Regions from separate parts of the Homo sapiens genome. Here region 1 is linked to region 2. A link means that fine-mapping ties the variant in region 2 to the expression of a gene that starts in the linked region. Tissue or cell type: whole blood. Region 2 holds a variant in brackets; the other region holds the start of a gene. All regions are shown on one strand. Distances are between the middles of the regions.

Region 1 (8,108 bases), 93 kb before region 2:
ATTGTGACAAAAGGCTTCTTTAGTATTAGTATGAAATAAGTGCATTTAAGTTTTAAAAATGTGAATCAATGTAAATAAAATGTTTTCTTTTTTTTTTTTTTTTTTTTTTTTTTTGAGACAGAGTCTAGCTTTGTCACCAGGCTGGAAGTGGTACAATCTTGGCTCACTGTAACCTCTGCCTCCCCGGTTCAAGCGATTCTCCTGCCTCAGCCTCCTGAGTAGCTGGGATTACAGGCACTCACCACCACACCTGGCTAATTTTTTTTTGTTTTTAGTAGAGATGGGGTTTCACCATGTTGGCCAGGCTGGTCTCAAACTCCTGACCTCAAATGATCCACCTGCCTCAGCCTCCCAAAGTGCTGGGATTGCAGGTGTGAGCCATGACCCTGGCCAAATAAAATGTTAAATTAAAAATACTATAGGTAGTTCCTTTGCTACTGGGACAAAATTGGTGAAGGGGGTTTGCACATGAGTTAATTTGCAAGTCACAAGTATAGTGGGAAGCAGGCAGGATTTGTAATCAATCAAATGTGGGCTCAAGACCTGCTTCTAACTTATCAGCTGTATGGCCCATGGATAATTCATAAGCTTCTATAAACTTGTTTTCTCCCACAAATTAAGGAGACAATATACTATTCAGAAGGTTGTTTAAAAGATTAAATTACATAAAGTATAAGAAGCACCTCCCAGGCAGCCATGTACATGGTGGGCACTTGCACTCCCTATCACAGTGTATATCCTTAAATAATGGAAACCTCTGTTTTTGGCAACACCAAACAGGAACTTAACTCCAGTACCTACTGAGTATCTATGCTTGATAAATGAGTTCTTATTTGCTTAGGATCTGGGACCTGTGGCGCGGGATCCTTCATGAGCAACAACTAAAATCAAGAAAAGCTTTGATTTGGAGAGTGGGCCAGCTCAGGCATCATGGACCAAGAGGCCTCTCTACCCCTTGTCCTGGCCTCCAATATTTCACAATGCTACCTATACCCTGCAGAGTTCAGGGGGAAGTAGATCTGAAATATTCAGATATATGTGCAAATAAAGACACGGATAATAACTCCCATTTTATTTATCTATCACTGTGTAATAAACCACCCCAAAAGTTAATAATGTTAAACAACTACAGTCTTATGATCATCTCATTATTCTGTGGGTTGACTAGGTGGAGCTGGATGGTTTTCCTCTACATAATGTCAGGTGAGACTAGAGTCAAGTGGGAGATCGATTAGGCTGGAGCATCCAAGATGGCTAAAGTCTGTGTATTAATCAGGATCTCAGGTGGAGCTATTGTCCCTATCACCTTTGTTTTCACTCCATGTGGCCTCTCCATGAAACTTCGGCTTCTCACAGCATGGCAGCAGGACCCTAAAAGGAAGGAAACAGAAACTGCCAGTCTCTTAAGACTTGGATTTAGATGTCTCAGAATATCACTTTCATTGCATCCAAAGCAATCACAGGACCAGTCCAGATTCCAAGGGAGGGGAAGTAAACTCCACCTCTTAATGGTGATGTATTTTTCAAAAAAGGAAGGAAAGGATTGAAAAAAGCCATCTTAGAAGACTACCACACCTCCTAAAGCTTTCACTTTTTGCAAAAGGTTTTTATTCTTGAAATGTGTGTATATTTCAACTAAGCAAATATGTACCTAGGAATTTATCCTAAGGAAGTAATCGCAGATGATTCAAAAGATCTGACACAAGGTTGTTCATTGGAATAAAATTGAAACTACCCAATGCCCAACAACAGGGGACCAATTAAGTCCAAAGGTGGTTGAGGACAGTGTTTTAAAAGTCTATTCTCTGGGAAGCAGGTAAAATTAAGCTTAAATTCCAACTCCATTACTTAGCATCTGTGTGATGTCGAGCAAGGTACAGTACTTAAGCTCTTTAAGTCTCAGTTTCTATATCGGTAAAATAAAGACAAAATATAGATTTTTGTGATGATTCAATGAGATGATACATATAAAAGGCTCAGCACATGGTAAATGATCAATAATTGTGAACTGCTATTATTATTTATGATAGTCCTTAGTGCTATCATATTAGTGCAAATCTTTCCCATTCTCTCCATTTCCAGGCACACAATACTTCCATGGATCTTTACAGTTAACTTTGTGTTTAGTTCTGACCAATGAGTTGTAAGTGAAAGTGGCATACGTTACTTCCTGGCTGAACATTTACTTGTCCAACATTATTGATTCTGAAGCTCCTAAATACTGTCAGATAACGGTCTGTCTACTCCATGAGTATACTTCAAGCAAACAGGGATCATACCACATAAAGCAAAAGCCACCTTTGTCTTATTCCTCATTGTTTTCTCTTTATATGGTGCAAGTTCAGTCCATGCTAAACTCTGAACAATTTTAAAACACTGCAACACATCAGAAGCCCCTCATCCTTGCTAGTGTCCATGAGATCCAAGTGCTCTGAAGATATGAGAACCCAGCAGACTGTTTAGAGGGTTACCTGGCTTCCCTCCCACCTGGCCCATTCCACCCTACATACAATCTGTCACCCAGCCAGAAGCAGGTGGCAGTGAGGTGGCAGCAAGGGAAACTTGGCTTATAGAAAACCCTCCTAAGTGATTGATCATCCAGAGGAGGTGCAGCCTCAAAATAGGAATAGCTTCGTTAAGGTTTGGGTAATTTCCATGGAAACAGACAGAACTAGACTTATTTTAAAGGGGGGGGGGGCAGGGCGTGGAATAGCCTGCAAGGGGCATAATAAGGTAAGCGATGTAAAAATGTTGAAGTTGGTGTGGCCGGCGGGACGGGACAAGGCGGGGGAATGGGGGGAGGGTCCCATATTTTTTTCTTTTCTTTTTACAATTTTGGTTCACCCTGGGTGAGGCAGAGGTTGGGAGGAGATCAGGCAGCGGTAAATTCTGATGTTGATGGCAAGTAAATTAGGTTCTTAGCCGGTACCAAATGAGGCTGAGAAAGATGTGGCCCAAGCTGGATTACAGTCATCAAGAAGTTAACAGAATCCTGTAAGAGCCCCTCCAGGTCGCCTTTCAGGTCCGCGAGCATCACGCAAGAGACTCCTTCCCAGGATAGAATCTTGTTTTATGGGCGGTTAAAATGCAAACAAACAGACCCTACATCAGCAATAACCGAACAAACAGGTGCAGGCCATTAAGAAAGTTTTGCATATGAGCTGTTTTAATTTTTGTTGCAAAGGATTTCTGGGGAGTCAAGGGGTATGTCAGAAATTAGAGCCCTAGGGCAGAACTTACAAAAACCTTTTAGCTACTTCCTTCTCCCCGGCCTCGGAAATGAAAAAGCCAAAAGGTCACCCAGCGCATCCGCCACCCAGTCAGCCCCAAGGCCAGCCGTCCTCACCCCAGTCCGGGTCCTCGCCATTGGCCTCTCCGCTGCACACGGCCACCTGTTGATGCCCTCGCGCCCACAGCCGAGTTGCAAACGGCCGCTAGAGTTCGTTCTAATTCCCCAGAGCAGAGCTGCCCGGGAAGCCCCGACGCGACGCGCCTGCTAATCTGCAGGGCGGGCGGGGACTCCGCAGAGCCTCCCAGCCCCAGGCTCCCTTTGTTTTCTCGCTGCGCTCGAAGCTTCTAAACTAGCCCCCAGACCGCATCCCCTCGTCCCCGCCCGGGAGCTGCCCAAGAGTCCACAGGCCAGCCCAGGGGGAAACAAGGTACATCTGGGCAGGAATGCGCGGCGCAGACAGGTTGCCGCCTGAGATCCCGAAGTGTACCCAGATCCCGAATTCCTTAGAGCTCTTTAGCCGAGCACTGTGGCAGGAGCGCGGCGCCCGGAATACAAGTTCATGGTTCCGAGCCGGCGGGCGAAGGGCAGCGCGATCCCCCGCCACCTTTGCTCTAAGGCGCCTAGGGGAACCTGGGGGCTGCCGCGGTGAGAGCTCCGCTCCCACTGGGAACATTGGAGTCCCAGTTGCGAAAGCGACCCGCCTAGCTTCCGAGGGACTTCTCTGCGAGCACCGCAGGCGTGTGCATTTCTTCGAATCTGAGAATTCCAGCGAACTCGGGCTCTACCAGAGTTTAAGTCGGCCCCTGGGGCGTCTGTTTGTTTATTGGCTCTTAAGGGAAAAAAGTTTGAAGATCTTTAACCAGCCTCAGACCTGGCGCGGGCGGAAATCCCGGAATCTCCCCAAGCAAAAGTGATATAACTTCAAGTCGTTATATAAGTGGGGGGCTCCTTCTTCCCCTCCCTACGCCGAGCCTTCTCATTATCATTCCGGGAGTAAAATGTGTCTCGCTCAACATAGTTTTAAAATCGTTATTATTATTTTCCTGAGCCTGAAGCCGGGCCAAGGCGCAGGCAGCGCCCAGGGTGCGTGGTGGCCCCACCCGCGCACAGTCCCACGCAAAGGGTCCCGGGGCCCGGGTACCGCCAGAGCCGGGCCTGCAAGCGCGCCCTTCGGTCCCACGGTCCGCCACTCCACGTGGTCAAGATCAACAGTTTGTTGAGCTCATCAGTGACACCTTGAACTTTTCATAAAGAAAATGGGTATTGCACGGAGACGGTTTGGCCGCGGCCGCCGCGCGGGGTCGTGCTTAATATTCAATGATCTCGCTCGCGCCTCCCCCTCCTCTTCTCGCAGAAATTCCACCGAGTCCGTTACTGGGCTCAGACTTTTAAGTTAATTTACTGCCCCCCTACCTTGGCCAGTAACCAGCGCCTTTAGGGCTAGCCTCCCCCCCAGCTCCTGCCTGAAAAATGACATTTCGCCGGTGTCTCCGGAGGGGGCTGAATTTCACTTTGTAACTTTCTGCGGAACCCGAGCCCGGGTGGCAGCTCGGGTGGTGGTATCGTATGCAAATACGCATGCTGACGTTACAGATCATGTGGGTTTTGGCGTAGATTCCCCACTGATCGAGGCATTTTTTTTCCCTTTTTTTTTCCTTTTTTTTTTTCTTTTAAAAATTTTGGCCATCGTTCTCCGTACGGGGGCTTTTTCTGTCTGTCTGTCTGGCTGGCAGGCTGGCTTTCCCCCTCTTTCCCACGGAGCCCGAGCCGGGCGCCCGGTGGGGAGTGGGGAGTGGGTGGGGGGAGCCAGCAGAGTTCCATTTTGGAACGCCCGTGCCGCGTCTCCGCGTTCCCAGCCCGGGTCCCCGCGTTCACAGCCCCAGCGCAGGTAAGAAACTTCGCCTCGGCGCGGAGCCCCCCAGCCGGCGCCGCCGGCCCCAAACCCCGCACGCCGGGCGCCGGCCACTCCAGCCCAACTTTCCCACCGCCGCCGTCGCCGCCGCGGCTCCCGAAAATGTGTTGTTAATGGGACTTGGCCGGGTTTGTGATTGGAAGGGGGGTACGGAAGGGGGGGGGTGTGCAGGCTCTTTTTGCGGGTGGGAGGAAATGAGCGGATACAGAGAGGGAAGAAGATTTTTTTTTTAAGAGTTTTGATTACAAGTTTGGATAAATGGGAGCCAGAGCGAGGAGGAGGAGGAGGAGGAGGAAAAACATGTCTACGTTTCCCTATGTCGACATAAGCCACAAAAAAATATGGCGTCCGCTTTCGACAGGGCGTTACGTAGACCCGACTGTTTTTATTTATTTATTTCGTGGCCGTCTCCCTCCCTTCTTGGCCAAACTGCGGCGCTTTGTGCAAACGGGGCAGGTCCCGCGGGGACTCCACCGGGACGTGGCCCCGTCTCCGCGCGTTTTGGCAGGCGGGGGGCTGCGTGTGTCTGCTCCCCTCCCTCCCCCTCTCCCCTCGCTCCCCTCTCCCGGTGACGATTCGCCGTAATGTGGTGGCAGGAAGCATGACGCCGTGGGCCGAGGCTGCCTCTGCTCTCGTCGCTCCCGGCGGCTGCAGGCAGCGGGCGCGCAGCGCGGGCGGCAGCCGAGCTACCTGGCGGGGGCAGGGCCGGAGCGCGGCGCTGTCCTCACCCCCGCTCAGGTGCAGGGGGAGTCCGCGCGGGGCGGGGGGCCGAGGGCGGCCGCGGGACCCCCGGCCCTGCTGTCCGCTGCCAGCTGGCCGGAGCCTCTGCCAGCCCGAGCCCACGTTCGCCCCCCTGAACGGCAGCTGGCGCTTTTCGTCTGCCCCACAAGAGGTTAATCTTTGTTGGTGTTGCAGCTTCTTTGTGGCTTCCCCAGGACTTGTATCCTCGGCTTTGCAAACTTGCCCTTTTCCCAGCCGCTTTGCAGGAGGCTGCGGAGACGAAGATGAGCGGAAAGTTGGAAACCAGCAGGCATCACAGGACGGTCCCTTTGGCCTCGTAGCTGTGCTGAGCCTGGGAGGCGGAGGAGGAGGTGGAGGCGGCGGCGGAGGAGGGTTTGTCAGGCTGGGGAGAAAACTTGATGAGGAAGCCAAATTGTGATTTGTTCAGGTTTCCACCTGATTGATAGTCTTCAAAGCCAGTAGGTCTCTACCTTCAACTGTTTCGCGGTGGCCTTTTGTTTGTCTGGGGCGTGGAGAAGGAGAGAAGTCGATGAATAAGGACTTTCCCTCGACCCCTCCCCTTTTAAAGAGTGGTTGCTCAGCTTGGCCCCCTGGGACACTGCCTTTTAGGCCCTGGAGTTCTTCCCCAACCTGCTCTCTGATCACTTTCTCTCTGTTAAGTTACCAGATCTCCAGGTCTCAGGCAGGCCCCGATGAGCAGAATGGAGTTAGAGGAGAGGATTCCTTCCCCCAGCACTTCTTGAATTGCCCAGACCTCCCACAATTACCCTCTTAAAACCACACACACACACACTTACTCACTCTCTCCTTTATATATGGCAGAAATTAATGCCTGTAGAAGTGAAGGGGGTGAGGTTCTGAGAGCTCTTCAAGATTTGAGTCAAAAGGTGATTTTCTGTTTATGAGGGCAGCGAGTTTAAGCAGTTCACTCCCAGGGCAGTAATGTCAAAAAGCGTTTGGATGACGACCAAGTGGAATAAATATCTTGTAAAATGGCATGTTTAATAGTAAAAATAGATTAATGGAGCTGTCAAGTGGTTGAATGGGACTACCATAAAGGTTTAAGTTTAAAGGGAAAGTTATGTAAAGCTGTATACACAGCTTCTTTTAAGGCCAGAAGGGAAAAAATCTACAAGTAAGGCTGAAATGTGTCACTGACAATAATTGGACTGGTGATGTGTGGAAATATCATCGCTGTTTAAATGCTCTGCTCCGCGATTGTTCTCTTGCGCACTTGTACCTTTCCTTCTAGCCAGGTTTGCTGTCAGCTAAAGGATGCACCTGAAGATTGTGCTTCAGGGGAAAATGCAAGAAACCAAGATTCTGGGGCACATCAGCTATCTCAACTAATGTCCATTTGAAGGGGGAAAACACCACTGTTTGTTGGCACTGAAGAAAGGGTATTCCTGTGATGTAAGTGCAGTGTATCTTGACATGCTGAAAGGTGGCCCCACCCGGCGTTTCTCATCCACATCAGGACCATGTGATTTGGTGGGATGCTGTACACTTATCAAAAATAATCATGGCAATGTTTGATAACAGTTTCTAACACTGTTATGGTGTGTGAGGCACAATGCTGTATATTTTACGTGCTTTATCATTTAATTCTCACCACAATCCTGTGAGCTAAGTACTACTATTATCCTCCGTTTATGGTTGAGGAAACAGAGGCTCCAAGAGGTGAAGAAACTTGCCTGAGCGACACAGCAAAAAGCAAATCCAGGCCTAACTTCATAGCCTTAACCAGTCCATTGTAGCAGCATTCAGATACACGACGTCACAGTTAGAATAAAAAAGTAAAGGGTCAGGTCCAGCAGAAAAGAGGGAACAGTAGCCACTGTCCTGAGGTCCGAACTTCAGAATTTACCTGGATTTTATTCCTTTATTCATTTATTTAGCAACTGTGTGTTGATTTATTTATTCATTCAGCAACTATAATGTTCATTATACTAATAAGAACCCATAGCCATTAAGCATTTTTGTATGCCAGGCACTATCCCAAGTGCTTATGACTAGACTATTTTGTCTTCATGACAACTCTGATGTAAGTACTCTCATTCTCTCCTTTTTCTAGATGAGGAGGCACAAGCCCAGGTAAGTTAGCTAACTTGCCCAAGTCCAAACAGCTAGTAAGCGGAGTGGCAGCCCCCAGAACACACACACTCTGCTGTTGCAATGCAGAGCGCATAACCAGATGTATGGAAATGCTGGGGAGACAGAGCC
Region 2 (8,108 bases):
TATAAAATGGGTTCCCTCATAGGGTAGTTAGGATGACTAAATGAGTCTGTGGAAGGTGCTTGGGGTAGTGTCCACCACAGAGTAAAAGTGTTAGTAAAAACAAAATTAATAAGTAAATGAACACAGAAGTCAGTATGTCATTGATTACTGGATTCACCTCAGCAAGATGGTAAGTTTCCTACCCACAGATTCAAAGTCTTTCATTCTGCCTGTGGGTTCAGGGAGGCTTTCAATTAGACCCTGAAGGAGGGGAAACCTGGGCAGAGGTGGCAGAGGTGGACAAAGCTTGGACATTTGGAGGCTTTGGGGAGTCTGAGGTTGCTGGAGCAGGTAGAGCCTCATGGGGGAGCACATGGCAATTGAGATGGGCAAGGTCAATGAGGCAGACTGCAGAGGCTCTCAGGTGCCGTGCTCAGGATGGAGCTGTTTGCAGGGAGCAATGAGCGGCTTTCAGAGGTTTTTAACCAAGGGAGTGATATGATGCAACCTTGGGCTTAGAAAGGTGAGCTGGTGCCAGGCACGGTAGCTCACGCCTGTAATCCCAGCACTTTGGGAGGCCAAGGGGGGTGGATCATCTGAGGTCAGGAGTTCAAGACCAGCCTGGCCAACAAGGTGAAACCCCATCTCCACTAAAAATTAAAAATAAAAAAAAAATAGCTGGGCGTAGTGACAGGTGCCTGTAATCCCAGCTACTTGAGAGGCTGAGACATGAGAATTGCTTGAACTCAGGAAGCAGAGGTTGCAGTGAGCCAAGATCGTACCACTGCACTCCAGCCTGGGTGACAGAGCAAGTCTCTGTCTCAAAAAAAAAAAAAAAAAAAAAAAAAAAAGAAAGAGAAAGATGAACTGGTCAGAGTGCAGATGGCACTGCAGGTAGGAGAAGTCAAAGACAAGGAAGCAGTGAGGAGATGGTGGCTGTTCCGATGGCCCCAGAGAGAAGGAGTGACCCTCTCAACTGAGCAGTCACAGCAGAAATGGAGTGGGGAACTCACTCCAGAGCACCAATTCAGAGAAAGAATGGACTGCATGTGAAGATAGAAAGTGAGAAAGGACAGGTCCAGAGTGAGCCTCAGGTTCCTGGCTTGAGAATCTAAGAGACTGATCTTGTTAACCAAGTAGTGGACAAAAGCAGAAAAAGTGGCAGGTGGTGTTGAAGGCTCTGGAAGCGTTGCATTTGATGAACCGGTGGAGCGGGCAGGACGGGGAGCAGCATGGAGTAGCAGTTAACAGGTAGGCTCAGGAGTCCACGTGGCTTCAATTCACATCCTGGCCCAGCCAAGTGCTAGCTGTGTAACCTTGGAGAGATCGTTTAACTTTCCTGAGCCTCAGTTTCCTTATCTGCATAATGAGGATTGTGTAGTGATTATTACCTACCTGAGAAGGCTTTTAGGATCAGCACATGTACAGTGTTAAGAACTATGTCTGGTACTTGGAACCAACCCAAATGTCCATCAATGATAGACTGGATTAAGAAAACGTGGCACATATACACCATGGAATACTAAGCAGCCATAAAAAATGATGAGTTCATGTCCTTTGTAGGGACATGGATGAAGCTGGAAACCATCATTCTCAGCAAACTATCGCAAGGACAAAAAACCAAACACTGCATGTTCTCATTCATAGGTGGGAATTGAACAATGAGAGCACATGGACACAGGAAGGGGAACATCACACACCGGGGCCTGTTGTGGGGTGGGGGGAGGGGGGAGGGATAGCATTAGGAGATATACCTAATGTAAATGACGAGTTAATGGGTACAGCACACCAATATGGCACATGTATACATATGTAACAAACCTGCACGTTGTGCACATGTACCCTAGAACTTAAAGTATATATATATATATATAAACCCTTTACATATAATAAATAAATTCCTTTCTCAGGGCAAAAAAAAAAAAAAAAAAACTATGTCTGGTACAGAGGGAGTGCTCCTAAGTGTGAGTTTCCATTACATTAGTACTAGCATTGAAACTGATTTTAGGATTAGTGTTTATCATCCTAGAGATGTCCAACATGGGCCTGGAGCACAGAAACAAGCTCAGGAAGGGATAGATGTATTGGGAATCAATAGTACATACAGGCTGGTGATTACCAACCTATAGATGTGTTCCTAAGGAGGAAGAAATGGGCATCACCCGGGTTCTTTTCAAAGCGTATCATCCTACCCAACTGCACTATAACCCTGACCCTGGCCCCTGCAGTCCTGCTGTCCTATGAAAAATCAGCATAGGCAGGTATCACCATGACCAATGGGAATGTGCCGCATCCTTCAGGTCTGCAGGCGAAGAAAAAAGATGCACAGACAGCTGATGGAGGTGACAGGTGAACCTATGGGGTGACTGAACTCACTCAGGGACAGCTCAGAGATAGAAGACTGCTGGGCTGAAGACAGAACCCTGAGGCAGCATCAGCATTTAAGATGCAGGATCCAAAGCGGTAGCTCCATCAGTTCACAGAGCTACAACTGCCCCATGTGCCACTCGTATGAAATTCACTTTGCCCTCATGGACTAGATATGAAAACCCTGTTGTAGGCATTTGGTCCATCTACAGATTCAGGGGCAAGTTCCAACCAGGCCCCATTCAATAGCATAAGAGGCTTCCTTTGCCTCTTCCTCCACTATTAGGAGTGGACTCAGTGTGGCTAAGCTAAACCAAAGAGATGAAGAAAGAAGTGAGAGAGGCCACTTCATCCTTCTCTATAGTCCAGCTAAAACTTTGCCCTAAGTGCCCTGGCCTAACCCCCCGTTCCGTGATATTTCAGAGCTCAAAGTTTCTTGGCCAAGGAAATGAAAACACCTATAACTCGTAGATACCAATACTTAAGTTGGTATTTGATTATATTAGTCAGACTTTTGGTTACAAGATGGAAATCCAATTCAAATTGACATAAGTGTAAAACAAAAAGGCGGTTCGTTCGTGTAATTGAAAAGTCTGAGCTGGCCTGGCTTTGCGCCCAGCTGGATCTAAGCAATGTCTGCAGGCGTCGTGTCTCTCCATCTCTCGGCTCAGCTTTCTTCTGTGTGGGATTTACTCAGACAGGTTTCCCCCACCGACAGCCAGCAGCTTTTCTCAGCAACCCCCGTAGAAAGAAGGCTGTGCTTCCACAGTGCTCCCAGCAAATGCCCTGGAATTGAGAAACTCAGGTCACCTGTCTATCCCCAAGCCAACTGCTGGAGCCAAAGGGTGCACGGTGCCAACTGGCCAGGCCTGTGTCACGCACTCCCACCGGGCATTGTGGGACCACATGGACCAAGAATGGGTGGTGAGGAAATTGGGGAGAGGGAATAAACCAAAGCCAAATTACCATATGTAAGTCCTGCACTGCCTTAAAAGCCTAGTCGTTAAGAAAAAGGAGTGACCGTGGCGGTAATTCTCAGAGCAGACTCAGTGGGGAGCACTGAACCTGGAGCTGGCCTTTGTGGCCCAGAACACATGTGAGAGTGAAGGCTAGGCAGTGGAATATTTCCACAGAAGTGATATTCCACATGCGGGTCCCCCTCTGTAGCATGCTAACCCCACGTGCAGAAGTGTCATCTCCCCCGGGGGCTTGGGCAGTATCCTCTGTATGCTTCCACTTCTCTCCACTCCCCTGCAGCCCCTGAGCTGGTGCCTGTCC[G/A]TACTTGGCCCCTGTGCAGCACTCAGTAGATGGTCACTGGTTGAGCAGCATCAGAGCGGGCATGCAGAGAAGGGCCCCTCGTCCTGCGGCCGGTGCAGGACGCCATCTTTGCTTCAGGTGATGCTCCCACTCTGGTGAGTTCTCTGGTTTATATTGCAGACAACAATGTATTTGATCTAATGGCTGCTATAACATATTCCCACAAACTTAGGCTTAACACCAGTTTATTATCTTATGGTACTAGAGGTCATAGTCCGAAATGGGTCTCACTGAGCTGAAGGTGACAAACAAAGTATTGACAAAGTGTACTCCTTCCTGGAAGCTCTCAGGGAGAATCCATCTTCTTGCTTCCCAGCTTCTAGAGGCCTCCCGAATTGCTTAGCTCAGGGCCCCCTTCCATCTTCAAAGCCAGCAATGGATGCTTGAGTTTTTCTTATGCTGCAGAACATGAGAACATGCAGTTTCTCAGACTCTGACGTTCATTGGCTTCCTACATCTTTAAAGGACTCTTATGATTACCTTGTGCCTACCCTGATAATCCAGAATAATCTGTTTATCCTAAGGTCAGATGATTAGCAACCTTAATTCCATCTGCAATCTTGTCTGTTTTAGACTAGTCAAGTGCAGTTCTGAGAAGGGGGAAAGAGTAGACAAGGAGTTGAATCTGTGACTGCCTGTGAACCATGCGTTGAGATCACTGACTACCTCCATCTGCAATATTCATTCCTCTTTGCCATTTAACATAAAATATTCACAGGTTCCAGGGATTAGGGCACAGGCATCTTTGGGGGTCCATTACTCTGCCTACCACAGCATTGTTACAATCATCAGTTCTAATATTCATCCAGCACTCACTCAATACCATTTGCTAAGTCCTTGACAAGAGTTTTGCTCTTGGCACCCAGACTGGAGTGCCAATCTCAGCTGGAGTGCACAATCTCAGCTTACTGCAACTTCCGCCTCCTGGGGTTCAAGCAATTCTCCTGCCTCAGCTTCCTGAGTAACTGGGATTACAGGCATGCACCACCACGCCCAGCTAATTTTGTATTTTTAGTAGAGATGGGGTTTCACCACGATGGCCAGGCTGGTCTCGAACTGCTGACCTCAAGTGATCCGCCTACCTCGGCCTCCCAAAGTGCTGGGATTACAGGAGTGAGCCACCATGCCCGGCCATTGAATCTCCATAACCATCAAGAGGTACAGTAAACATCCCCATTTTACCACTGAGAAAACAGAGGCACCTAAAAGTCAGTTATCTCCAAGATAATATCCACAGACCCAGTAAACAGTAGATCATAGTTCTGCCAGACCATAAAGTCTGAGCTTCTAGACAGTCAGCTGATAGAGGGTGTCAGGAGATTCAGAATAGAAGAAAATGGAGATACTTTTCTACATCAGCAGCAGGGCATGGGGCAGTGGGGACGTTCTCAGGTGCCAGACCACCTGGGTTTATGTCCCAGCTCTATCCCTTACTAGCAACGTGACCTTGGGCAGGTCACCCCACCTCTGTATGCCTCCCTTTCCTTGACTGTAAAATGAGCAGACAAGGCTATAGTGAATCACCATGGCTGGTTTTATTTTTATTTTTAAAGTCAAACAAATTCCTGGATCCAGATTTCTCTTTTTTATGCTTGTCTTCAACCTGCTTTTAGAGGAAGGAAAACTCTGTTATATATATATATATATATATATATATATATATATATATATATATATATATATATATATATATATCCTTTTACTTTGCCTTCCTTTTCTCTTGTCTTTTCTCAGAAGGCAGCAGGGCAGGGACCAGCTAACTATGCCTGGCTCTGTGTGGCCTGTGGGCTAAGAATGGTATTGTATTTTTAAAGGGTTGTAAAAAACAAACAAAACAAAGAAGAACAATATGCAACCGAGGTTGCATGTGGCCCACAAAGCCTAAGATATTTACTGTCTGGCCCTTGACTGAAAAAGTTTGCTGACCTCAGAAAGAACACAGGCAGTAGTGTCAACCACACCTGGGGTTGGGTGCTGTACTAGATGATCAGGACTCAATTGGACCTTTGGGTCATGAAAGCACCTTGGGGCCTTCCCACAGTGGTGACTTTCATAAGATTTGTAGCAACAGCAGCAGCGCCGGTAGCAACAGCAGGTGCGGTAGTAGTAGACGTGGTAGTTGGAATTTACTGAGCATAATCTGCTTTAATCTCCTCAACAATCCTCTGCGATAAGCATGACTATGAGCCCCCTTTTACACATGTGGAAACAGAAGCTGCCTGGGGGTGCGGGTCCCCCGCCCGTGGTTACACAGTGAGATGGGACAGAACCAGGATTGGAACGTAGGCAGCCTGACTCTGAATTTTTCTACATTGCCTCCCTATCATTGCCATCAGCTCTCCCTTCAGGCAAGATAAATCTTTGCCTTCCCTTGTTTTCTTCCCTGACCCCTTTTCCCTAATTCTCTGACAAAATTCATTTCCACTGTAAAAGGGCAACTGAAAAATAGAAGAGCTTTCAAAACAGCTCTGACACAGACATCTATAATTTGGGTTTTGGCATCCATCCATCCATCCCATTCATCCATCCATCCCTCCACCCACCCATCCATCCATCCACCTACCCATCCACCCACCCATCCCTCCATCCCTCCACCCACCTACTCACTCATCCATCCATCCCATCCATTCACCCCTCCCTTGATCCCTCCCTCCCTCCCTCCATCCATCACAACACAGCACCAGGAACTCATAAGAGCCCACATCTTCGACACTGACAACTGGGGCAAACCCCAAGTGCCTGGGTCCTCCAAATTCATTGTTGCCAGGAAGCACAGAGGGAAGCTCATTAAATAGTACCAAGTACTTGATTAATATGCTGCAATTCGGGCAGCACCAGACTATTTCAGCACCCCCTCCCCTTACCCCGTTACCATGACAATATTATTTTAACAAACAGCTCCTTAATATTAAATGAAAATTATGCTCCTGACAGACGAGCAGAAGAGCAGCTGAACTACAAAGGGCTTAGAGGGTCCGCCAGGACATTTTTGCATGAAGCCATCAGTTTCCCCTGATCCCTGGATGCCATTTGTTGCCAGAAAATGCAAGTGTTCTGGAGGCTGGGAGCCAACGTGATGCCAGGCCTTGGTTACAAGCAGCAATTGAGGGTTGTCACTTTTTTAATGCAGAATGTCACAACGGCTCCACGAGGACGGGGTAGCGTGATAGCATTATTAAACACTCCTTTGTACACCGATCGGCTAATTTCACCCCTGCTCGCCTGAGGCTGCTGAAAGCCTTGTTTGCTTCCCGTCTTGAATCGAGTTGGATTGTAAGACTGAGTGTAGAGAGCCCTTGCCTGTGTGCACCAGGGTGAGAAGAAGCCCATCTTTCCTCTGCAAGGAGCCATCTGTCCCACCCAGTCAATTCAGCAACAAGCAGTTGCAGGGATTGGGGGACCCAAGCCTCTGCCCTCAATGGGGGTGAATGTCAAGAGAGAAAAGACGAAGGACATACAGGCTACTCTATGGTAACCTCCATCAGTATGTTGGTGGGTTTATGTGCCAGGCACTGTGCTAAGCACTTGAAAGCAAAAATTAAGGACACATCCGAGATCCCCAATGGCAAAGATGAGTGAATAACTATAGTAAAGTGGAGAGAGGATGGCAATGGCAGTGGGTGACCTATTAGCTGTGTGACCTTGGGTAACTTACTTAACCTCTCTGTGCCTCAATTTTCTCATCCACAAATTGGGGATAATAACACTATCTACCTTAACCATTGCCATGAGGTTTAAAATGAAATAAACACATAAGAAGCACTAGAACAGTACTTAAAATACTTAAAACAGTGGGCACATGGTAAGCAGTAAATAAATGCTAGCTAGGACTGCAAGTTCCCATGGTACCATGCATACAATTATAATAATGGCTAACATGTAGTAAGTGCTTACTCCATCCCAGGCACTATGTGAAGTGTTGGAGTTGTACTACATCATTTAATCTTCATAGGCAACCCTGTGAGATAGGTACTATGTCATCATTGTTATCCTCACCTTGCAAATGAGGAAACTGAGGCTCTGTGGGTTTGCGGAACTTGTCCTAGGTCCTGAGGCTGGGAAGAGGGGATTTGAATCCAGCTTCATCTGGATTTGCTGCCTCATCAAAACACGAACTACAGTATCACAAAAAGCACACAAATGGTGGTACTCCAGGAACACGGGAACCTCGCTGGGGAGGCCTGTCCCGGGGAAGTGGCTGCAGGTGACTTGAAGGCTGATGCATTTTCATGGACTGAGAGGATGGGACTGGAAAGTGGAAGAGGAATTCTAAGAAGGAGGACTTGGGGGAGCTAAGACCTGGAGGAGGGGAACTATGGACTGCATTTGGAGAAGGAAGCACGATCTGGTTTGATTGACTCTACAATAGGCAGATTCTTGGTACCAAGTGGGAGCTTGTCTTAAACAAATATGACCTATTTATTTAAAATATACGTTGGATTTTT

Evidence for each region. PIP is the estimated chance that this variant, and not a neighbour inherited with it, causes the effect.
Region 1: ZHX2 starts here. The variant in region 2 is fine-mapped to the expression of ZHX2 in whole blood (TOPMed, PIP above 0.99).

The regions. Positions count from the first base shown.
Region 1 is chr8:122,776,827-122,784,934 of GRCh38, forward strand. ZHX2 (zinc fingers and homeoboxes 2) reads left to right here and starts at 4,829. Exons shown (of 4, transcript NM_014943.5): 1 at 4,829-5,120. It overlaps ZHX2-AS1 (ZHX2 antisense RNA 2), which reads right to left and starts at 4,778. Exons shown (of 2, transcript XR_007061082.1): 1 at 3,347-4,778; 2 at 1,058-1,371. RefSeq lists enhancers at 3,272-3,773, 3,774-4,273, 5,441-5,490, 6,146-6,680 and silencers at 5,541-5,610, 5,831-5,960, 6,741-6,820.
Region 2 is chr8:122,869,837-122,877,944 of GRCh38, forward strand. All of the region lies in intron 2 of ZHX2 (zinc fingers and homeoboxes 2), which reads left to right. Among named protein-coding and RNA genes, the nearest start is that of ZHX2, 92 kb to the left of the region's middle. The variant G/A (reference allele first, on the strand shown) is at 3,625.